Regions from separate parts of the Homo sapiens genome. Here region 1 is linked to region 2. Evidence: fine-mapped expression QTL. A gene starts in region 2. The other region holds a variant in brackets. All regions are shown on one strand. Distances are between the middles of the regions.

Region 1 (5,390 bases), 36 kb before region 2:
CATTCAAACTGACATTTAAAGGCAAAACAAACCTTCGAGGGAAAGATTTGGCTGCTGAATTATGGACCTGTTTGGGAAGAAGAAAGAGATGAAAATTGTCATTCATATGGTAACAGTATGTCCCAATAATTTAGATCCAGTCAACATCATTGGCATTCCTAAATATTTAAATAAATGATAATTTCCATTCATTCATCTACTTAATATTTGTTGAGTACCTACTATAGCCCAAGCAGTTTTAGACACTGGAGATACAGTCATGAATAAAGCAAAGTCTTTGGCCTCATATAATTTATATTCTAGTGGAGGAATGATAATAAAGAAATTTAAAAATTATAAAATATTTGTGGCCAGGTGCGGTGGCTCATTCCTGTAATCCCAGCACTTTGGGAGGCCAAGGCAGGCGGATCACCTGAGGTCTAGAGTTCAAGACCAGCCTGACCAACATGGAGAAACCCTGTCTTTACTAAAAATACAAAATTAGCCGGGCATGGTGGCTCATGCCTCTAATCCCAGCTACTCGGGAGGCTGGGGCAGGAGAATCACTTGAACCTGGAAGGTGGAAGTTGCGGTGAGCCGAGATCATGCCATTGCACTCCAGCCTGGGCAACAAGAGTGAAACTCCGTCACAAAAAAAAAAAAAAAAAAAAAAAAAAAAAGTTATTTAATTAGCATCAAATAAACAAATGATTATATAACAAAGAGTAAGAAACTAGAGAGTAACAAAGGGTGCTTTCCTTCTTCAGATTTGATCAGGTAGACCTCTGTGTGGAAAAGGATCAACTTAGTAAGCCTGGGTTGCTCAAACCCTGCACTATTTCAAGAAAGACTTGTTTTCATGACTGACCTTGGGCTGGTTGCTGGGAACTGAGCTCTTGGGATGTTCTGTCTGATAAGAGTGTTCTTGCATGTGCCAGTCCTTAAGTGACTCTGCAGTAGTTTGTCCAGATAGTTTATGCTAACAATGTGATTTATAATGAACACCTCCATTCCCTTGAGGATCTGGAACATCAGTAACTGAGGGTCATCATGTAGGGGTTTTATGCTTATATGATTCATCCCCAATAAAAACCCTGGACAAGCAGGCTTGGGTGGGTTTCTTTGGCAGACAACATTTTACACATGTTGTCACTAGTTCCTGGAGGAATTAAGCATGTCCATTGTGACTCTACTGGGAAAGGACTCTTGGAAGCATGTACCTGGTTTCCTCTAGACTTCATCTCATGTGCCTTTTCCTTTTGCTTATTTTGCTTTGTATCCTTTTACTGTAATCATGAGTCATGAGTATGACTATATAGAGTCTTTTTAAAAATTTTTAATAAAGATGGTATCTCACTATGTTGCCCAGGCTTGTCTCGAACTCCTGGGCTCAAGCAGTCCTCCTGCCTTGGGCTCCCAAAGTGCTGGAATTACAGGCGTGAGCTACCTCGCCTGACCTATTTTGAGTCTTATGAATCCTCCTAATGAATTATCAAACCTAGGGGTGATCCTGGGAACTCCCAACACAGCTTCTCCATAGAGATGATGTTTAAGCAGGAGACCCAAATAAAGTAAGTGTGTTTTTCCTGACAGTAAGTGCTTTAAGCCCATTTTCCTCTCTGAAATACTGTAGGATGGAGAACAAACTGCACCATTTCCTCCCATATACCTAGTCTATATGATCTCTGTAGCATGCAGAAATATTTTTAGTGAGTAAAGATTTAGTGCTATTCTTAAGATTCATAAAGTTATTAGCTTTTTTTTTTATAAAAGGTCACCATGGCTTCAGAAGTTACCAACTTTTTAAAAATGACTTTTAATTATATTTACAATTGTTTTCTCTTGCAAAACCATAGCTAACCCAAAAGACGCTTCAAATAATGGTAGATTACATTATATGGATCAACTACCCCATTGAAAACAACTAGAAATTATGGACAAAATGTTTAAAACAGCTGCCTGAAGGCACTGGTGAGCTAAAAAGACAGTGAAGAACAAAGGGGCCAGGTTTGGGATGAAAAGGAAACCCACAGAAACCAACTGGATACTGGGGCAAGTTTTTCCCTAACTACTTAAACATATGCTCAACATCATTAGTCATTAGGAAAATGCAAATCAAAACCACAATGAGATATCACTTCACACCCATTAGGATGGTTATTATTTTTTTAAAACCCAGAAAATAACAAATGTTGGTAAAAACGTGAAGAACTGGAACTCTTGTGCATTGCTGATGGTAGAAAAATGCTGTGGCCACCGTAGAAAAATAGTTTGGTTGTTCCTCAAAAAGTTAAACACAGAATTACATGATCTAGCAATTCCACTTCTAGATATATACCTAAAAGAACTAAAAAAAGGAATTTGGATATTTGTATGCCAATGTTCATAGCAGCATTATTCATAATACTCCAAAGATGGAAACAACCCAAGTATCCATCAACAGATGAATAAACAAATATTGTGTGTGTGTGTGTGTGTGTGTGTGTGTGTGTATACAATCGAATATTATTTAACCTTAAAAGGGAATGCAATTCTGATACATGCTACAACATAGATGAACTTTGAAAACATTATGCTAAGTGAAATAAGCCAGACACAAAAGGACAAGTATTGTATGACCCCACTTACATGAAGTACCTAAAATAGGCAAATTCATAGAAACAGAAAGTAGAATAGAGGTTACCAGGGACTGGAGGTGGGGGGAACAGGGAATTATTGTTTAATGGGTACAGAGTTTCTGTTTGAGATGATGAAAATGTTCTGGAAATGGATAGTGGTGATGTTGCACAACATTGTGAATTTACTTAATGCCACTGAATTGAACACCTAAAATGGTTAAAATGGTAAATTTAATGTTATATATATATACTTTCTACACCATAAAAAAAGAAATAATACAGAGATTTCCCATATATTCGTCATCCTTTTTTGCCAGTAGGAATGTCTTGCATAATTATAATATAATATCACAACTGGGAAATTTACATTGATACAATCCACCAACCTTATTCTAGTTTAACATGCATTCGTGTGTGTGTGTGTGTGTGTGTGTGTGCGTGTATTTAGTTCTATGCTATTTTATCATGTGTAAATTCATGTACCCACCACGCCACTCAAGATACAGAACAGATCCATCACCACAAGGATCCTTCACGCTACTTTTTGATAAGGGTATAGCCATAGCAACTCACTTACCCCTTAACCTTAAAGAGAAGGGCTTTTCAATAGTTTTGAGGGCTAGAGTGACAAAAGTTTGAATTTACGATTTTCCAAGAAGAGGAAGGCCTAGTAAACCTCTAGTCCTTTGGGTTGGGACCTCATAGGTC[T/G]GTACCCTATGAATAAGAATAAACAAGAAATAGTCCAGCTCTTGCATGGACTGAATCCTGCTTCAAATTATATAAGCAAGTGAAATTCTTCTCTAGAGGAAAATAACATCATCTTGTGTCTCAAAATATTTCCACAATTTTTAAAACACAATATTCTGCAAATGAAAGGAAATAACCAGCACATGAAAAGACAAGGCAACATGATTAAAAACCAAAATAAACAACAGATAACAGAAACAGAATCACAGAAGATCCAGATACTAGTTATCAGACTTTAACTATTCTAAATATGTTTAAGGAAATTATTTTAAACTGAGAATTGTGGTAGAGAACTATAAATTGGAAAAGAGAACCAAATCAATATTCTAGAACTGTAGATCTGCCTATAAGGAAATTTTCAAGTCTGGAAGGCTTTACTGTTGAATTATTCCAAATATTTAAGAAATAATATCAATCCTATACAATATCATCCAGAAAGAAGGAAAACAGAGAACAATTCCCAACTCATTGTATGAGACTAGAAAAACCACAAAACCAAAACCTAGTAAGAACATTATAGAAAAGAAAAAAATTAAAGGGCAATTTTATTCATGAACATAGATACAAAGAATTCTAAACAAAATAGTAACAAAGCAAATCCTGCAATATATTTAAAAGCAAATAAAATGCGACCAATTGGGATTTACTTCAGGAATGGAAGGGTAGCTTAACATTCAAAAATCAATCAATGGCTGTTATGAACATTTTTTAAAGAATCAGTCAATGTACTTCACCATGTTCACAGAATAAAGGATAAACGTTATATGATTATCTCAATAGTGCAGAAAAAAAACAGTTGATAAAGTCCAACATCCATTCATGACAAAAAATCTCAGTAAACTAGGAGTAAAAGGGAACTCTCCTAATCTAATAAAATGTATCTTTTTAAAAAGTTGTCCACACAAAACGTGCTAACAAATATTTATAACAGCTTTATTCATAATTGCCAAGAATTGGAACCAACCAAGATGTCCTTCAATAAATGAATGAATACACATTTCAGCGATAAAAAGAAATGAGTTCTCAAGCCACAAAAGACACAGAGGAACCTTAAATGCATATTGCTAAGTGAAAAAAGTCAGTCTGAAAAGTCTACATACTGTATGATTCCAACTATGTGACATTCTGGAAAAGTCAAAACTACAGAAATAGTGAAAAGATCAGTGGTTTCCAGGGGCTGAGAGGAGGAAAGGGGAAGGGACGAATGGGGGAGCACAGGGAGATTTTCAGGGCAGTGAACTATTCTGTATGATATTGGTAGATACATGACATTATGCATTTTTCAAAACCGGTAGAACTGTACAACACAGACCTAACCATCATGTAAAGTATGGACTTTAGTTAGTAATAATGTAACACTCCTACATTGATTCATCAGTTGTAACAAATGTACCATTAGCAGGAGAGGGAAATATGGAAACTCTCCATACTTTCTGCTTGATTTTTCTTTAAAAGTAAAATTGCTCTAAAAAACAGTCTATTTTTTTTTGGAAGTCCTTTATTGTAAAGGTAATTCTTTTGTCTGATGACAAACAGCAGCCACAGTGATTATTCTGGATCTCCACAATGGACAAATTCAATTTCTTCTTGAGACACAAGTTTACTTCTATATTTCTGAGGTAATGTTTTCATTACTTCTGCAGTGTCTGGTACATCCACAAATCCAGTAATTTACTTCCCTTAGAATGCTGGGAAATTGCAGAATCGTGAGATGGTTGCCCTGCTGATCTCAGAGCTTCTGGTACATTGGGTTTAGGATTGTCTCTTCCAGCAGGGAAGCTTATTAATGGAGCATGTGGCTTGACTACCTGAACGACACTGCTAGCAGATGCATCTTGCTGCCCATCATGACCCCCGAGAAGGGACAGTTTCTATTATATTTTTTTAATCTACAGCCACAGCATGCTTCATGGTAAAATGCTGCAAGCTTTGCCTCTCAGATTGGGAACAAGTTAAGGATGCCATTATCATCACTTATATTCAACACTGTACTGAAGATCCAGTGAAATAAGACAAAAAAAAAAAAGCCAATATACAGCTTACATG
Region 2 (5,390 bases):
TGGGAGGCCAAGGCAGGTGGATCACCTGAGGTCAGGAGTTCGAGACCTGTCTGGCCAACATAATGAAAGCCCATCTTTACTAAAAATACAAAAAAAAAAAATAGCCGGGTGTGTTGGCCGACCCCTGTAATCCCAGCTACTCAGGAGCTGAGGCAGGAGAATCGCATTGAACCCAGGAGACAAAGGTTGCAGTGAGCCGAGATCGCAGCACTGCACTCCAGCCTGGGCAACAAGAGCGAAACTTCGTCTCAAAAAAAAAAAAAAAAGCAAATTCCATTAATTGGTCAAGGTCTATCTCCAGTGTTACAGTACTTCCCTTAAGAGGCAGCACAGTGTAATATTTAAGGGTGTGAGCTGGGGCTCTACCTGGCTCCAGACTGGTTGGTTTCAAATATGCCCTCTCCTAAATAAGAAGGCTTGAGAAAGGCACTTATCACCTCTCTGTGGTCTGTTTCCTCTTTTCTAAGATGGTGATGATGATAATTCATATTACTTCTAAGGCTATAAGTAATAAATGAGTTAGTTTATGTAAAGCTTTTAGAACAGAATACTCAAAAAATGCTATTATTATATTTACATAGCTTTTAATGATCAGTCCAATAAGGTGTAATATCTCCTTTATTTTATTCAGTTGACGAAGTACTTGGTACTGCTGAGAATAAAAAGCATTAGAATCCTGAAATAAAAGAACTGACTGCCTAGTAAACAGATCACTGACACTGTGTTTTATTTCAGCATTGTTTCTCAGAGTCTGGTATGAGGACTACTTGCAACAGAAATACCTGGTGTTACTGCTAAAATGCAGTTTCCTGGACTCCATTCTGGTCCTAATAAATCAGAATCTCTGGGGAAGGACAAGCAGGTATTCTTAAGCATACTAAAATCTGGGAACTACAGTATCAGAAGTACAAAGAGGATGCTTTGAAAAGATAGAGAAGGAAACTCTCAGGTATTTATGTTACTCTACTTTTATTAACATTATGCACCATTTATCTTATTCTCAGATTAAAATAAATTCCCTAAGGTCAGGTATGTAATTTTACTCATCTTACTTTTTTAAGTAAATTGAATGGCCTGATTGGGCATTTGTCTAAGTAGAGATACACAAATTTAAAGCATTTTACATTGTAGAAAATATTTACATGTCTATATGTTGTATACTCTATTGCATGCTACTGGTAATCTGCTACATGCTCTTCAAAGTTTCCATAGAATTTGACATTAACACTTTCTTAAACTCCTTTCTATTCGTAGCTTCTGAGACATTGTCCTATTCTAACTTTCCTGCTGCCCTATAACTACTCTCTGCATTCTGCTAGTTTTATTACTTATTAGCTGACAACCTTGGGCAAGTTACTTAATGTCTCTGAGCCTCAGGTTTTTCCATGATAAAATGGAAATAAAAGGAGGTTAATACTTCCTGTTTATGTCTGTTGTCATAATCAAATATAAAGATAGTGGATGCTTTCCAAATGTTAATTCCCTTTATGGGCTCCTTATCCCCCTTACCACTTCATGAATGTTCCTAAGGTCCTACCTTGGATCTTTAATCTCAGCACTCTCCCTTGGCAATCTCATCTAGTCTCTTAATTTCATCAATTACTTCTTGCAGGTGACTTTCAACATGTCAAAATAGAATGTTTAATTCCCCCCCCCCCGCCAATCAATTTTCTTCATCTAGGATATTTCCCAACTCCTTCAGATGAAATTTACTCACCTAACTCATCCTTCAAGATCCAGTTGCCATGTCATTTGCTTTATAAACACAGCATTCCCCTTACCTACAGCAAGAACTGATTCTCCTTAGTCTGAACTCACAGCATCTGTTTATAGCTCTCATATGGACCTTATCTTATCTGTCTTGTATGATAAATGATACTACCAGTACTCCTTGAGTACAGGGTCTGGTGTTTGTCTCCTCTCTCCTTCCAGTACGTAATACATTCCCTTGCATACTGCAAACATTAAATTACTACATTAAGTAATTTTAAAATTTATAGTGCATATTAGTATGATTTCTGAAAGCTCTAGATCAGCCAATTTCTATACATAAAATCATGTAACAATGGTAACTATAATAGAAGGCTATAAAACATAAATGAGTTTTAAGGCAGTCCCCGCAAAATGCAAATAGAGAAACCAAACAATTACATTAGAACGTGTGGCAGTGATTTTTCAATTTAGAAAAGCCTAAATATTGAATATTCTTCTTATTGCAAATCCCAAAGAATACCAAGTCCCTGAATCCTGCCTTAAATATTGCATAAAATATACAAATGTGAAGGCTGTTTCCCTGACCATGAGGAAACAATCCTAACTCAGCCTTCTTTAACTTCCAGGACTCTGCGGAATTGCTATCTCATCTGAGCCACACAGGACACAAAGCTTCAGAAGCTCCCAGCAACCTTCAGGAAAGAGGCACAGAATTCTAAGCGCAGACTGGCAAGAAGAGGAGGATGAGGAAGAGAAAGGGGCAAACCCTCTACCTGGGAGCCGGTGCACCATCACAGGAAGGAAATCCACTGCAGTGGCAGAATGACTCCTGATAAAATGGAGAAAGACTCGAAAAAACATTTTTGTATTGAGCAGATCCAGTGATTTCCAAATCCTCTCACACTGGCAGTTTTGAGTACTACTAAACAGTGAACACGCACAGAACTGCCTGGACTGTCCCTCCCTCACTGACAGGTCAAAGAGAGGACGCAGCTTAAGGGGCGGGGCTTATTTCCATGACAACCGTCCAAACACCCTAGCTATAATACGCAGCTGTTTGAAATATTAAAATTAGACCACCAATAGTGGTCTCCCCCGCCCTAAACTTTTCTTTTTCAAACCTGTTCTCACACTACAGTTAAGTCCGTTTATCCTGATGCACAGCATCAATTTTTTTATGCCACTCCTCTTCTGGAAGATTCCGACACAGAATAAAGTCCGAATTTAGACTGCCACTAGAGGACGCTACAATCTGGCAACAATTTACCTTTCATCCTTTTTCTCTGCCTTTAAATCACTTCATCCTTCCTTTTCTTTTCTATTCATTAATTTTACAGAACATTTTCTGACAATCTAGCATGAGTGAAAGTATGCCCTTAAAATGTATATGACTTTATTAACATTTTTAGCACCAATGTAGCAAATACTGTGCTACAAAGTAAGAATACCAAGAAACAAGATTGTCCCTGCTCTCCAGTTTAGACCATACACTATTCCCCTTCATGAATTATCATCCCAGCAAAGTGACTAACATACCATGATACGTTTGTTCTTCTGTGCCACTGAAGAAACTTTTCCCCTGCCTGAAATATCCCCTTTCCTTTTCAAAAATCCAATTTAAAATCTACCTCTCTGACTCCCTTACCAAAAGGTCTTCTAGTAACTCCCACAGCACTGCCACAGAGTTGCTTTTAACATTAACATATCATGTTTTCCTAGCAAAATTGTATTTCAAGAAAGAAGTGGTTAAAATTGTCAGAAGGGAGTGTCTTAATACATATAGCAGAGTACGAAGATAGTTCGGTATATATTTTGATTAGTAATCAATGAAAAATAACTTATAAATTTGTGATATTTTATTGAAATAGTAAAGAGTAACATTAGAAGTGTAAATTAAAGGGCAATAGTATTCCTGCAATAGCATTTCTCCAGTTGTGAGATAATAATAATTATTATTATTTTCTGAGACAGAGTCTCACTCTGTCACCCAGGCTGGAGTAGAGTGGCACAATCTCGGTTCACTGCAACCTCTGTGTCCCGGGTTCAAGTGATTCTCCTATCTCAGCCTCCTGAGTAGCTGGGACTACAGGTGTACGCCACCATACCCAGCTACTTTTTTTAATTTTTATTAGAGACAGGGTTTTGCCACGTTGGCCAGGCTGGTCTCGAACTCTTGACCTCAAGTGATCTGCCTGCCTCAGCCTTTCAAACTGCTGGGATTACAGGTGTGAGCCACCATGCCTGGCCAAGATAATTACTCTTGTCTACGTGGATGGTACCAAAGCCATCCAAATTTGATTTAAAAAATAAGCCTTCGACACCCAAGAATGATCAATAAAAAAATAAATAAATAAGCCTTCATGATTAGGCTTTCAGGCACCTTTATACTACAAGGTATAACAATTCTGAACAGTGCTGAACAGTAAACACATTGTGACTTAAAATCAGTTCTCCAGTCTTAATCATATCAAATGAAATGATCAAATCAATTTACTGAACCTGCAAAGGGAAGAACTAGATGTTAAACAATGGTGATACCATCAGGATATAACAAGTATATTATGAAATCTAGTCTCAAACAATCTGTTGGCCTTATTTTTCATATTAGTAATAAATGCTTAGAAAAAGAACATTTCTTAATGATGGTAGGTCGAAATCCAGATGACATGTCGTATTAACTCACAAATCTTCTTGTTGTATTTAGTTTTAAAAAATTTCCTTTTGGCCGGGCGAGTGGCTCATGCCTGTAATCTCAGCATTTTGGGAGGCTGAGGTGGGTGGGTCACCTGAGGTCAGGAGTTCGAGACCAGCCTGGCCAACATGGCAAAACCCCGTCTCTACTAAAAATACAAAAATTAGCCGGGTGTGGTGGCAGGCGCCTGTAATCCCAGCTACTCAGGAGGCCGAGGCAGGAGAATCACTTGAACCCAAGAGGCAAAGGTTGTAGTGAGCCAAGATCGCACCACTGCACTTCAGCCTAGGTAACAGAGCAAGATTCTGTCTCAAAAAAAAAAAGCAAAGGAAAGAAAGAAAAAATTGAAAAAATTTCCTTTCCTTCTTTTTTTAGAGAGAGTGTCACTCTGTCACCCAGGCTAGAGTGCAGTGATGCAATCATAGCTCACGGCAGCTTCGGATTCCTGGGCTCAAGCCATCCTCCCACTTCAGTCTCTCAAGTAGCTAGGATTAGAAATGGGAGCCACTGCAAGTGGCAAAAAAGAAAAAAATTCATTTCTAATAATTACTTTGTTGACCTCCAACCTATTCTGTGCCACCACCTCTATCAACCCAATAATTTTTTCCACTTAACCAATTTTCTTTAGCAAGTATTATTTTATTTCACTTTTGTCATCTTTTCTTATATGAGTATTTACATCATGTGGTGTTTATGCCTTAAAATAGTAATGTGATAAAATGAGATTTTATTTTAGAGTTTAGAAGGCAGCAAGGCAAATGTGCAGTCTCCCTTAGGAATAACAATTCCCTGTAGTACTATTTGCAATTTTCTGACTGCTTATATTGGAAAAATATACATGTAATAAACTGAACTGCCTATATGATTGAAAAATGGGTGCTATTTTGTTTAAAAATCTGGTTAATATAGCTATCCCATATAGTAATATATAACATAGAAAGTTTTCAGTAAAATCATAGCAGTACTTCACATTAAAGGGATAATT

Direction of the effects. Positions count from the first base shown, and alleles are read on the strand shown. Sizes are in standard deviations (SD) of each study's normalised expression.
With allele G in place of T in region 1, the expression in left ventricle of the gene that starts at base 2,664 in region 2 is lower (moderate effect, 0.55 SD a copy in GTEx).

Evidence for each region.
Region 1: its variant is fine-mapped to the expression of BCO2 in left ventricle (GTEx, PIP 0.92).

Annotation. Positions count from the first base shown.
Region 1 is chr11:112,208,401-112,213,790 of GRCh38, reverse strand. It overlaps BCO2 (beta-carotene oxygenase 2), which reads right to left. Exons shown (of 12, transcript NM_031938.7): 9 at 1-67. It also overlaps the pseudogene MRPS36P4. Among named protein-coding and RNA genes, the nearest start is that of PTS, 15 kb to the left of the region's middle. The variant T/G (reference allele first, on the strand shown) is at 3,306.
Region 2 is chr11:112,172,786-112,178,175 of GRCh38, reverse strand. It overlaps BCO2 (beta-carotene oxygenase 2), which reads right to left and starts at 2,664. Exons shown (of 12, transcript NM_031938.7): 1 at 2,487-2,664. The coding sequence starts at 2,574. RefSeq lists a silencer at 137-303.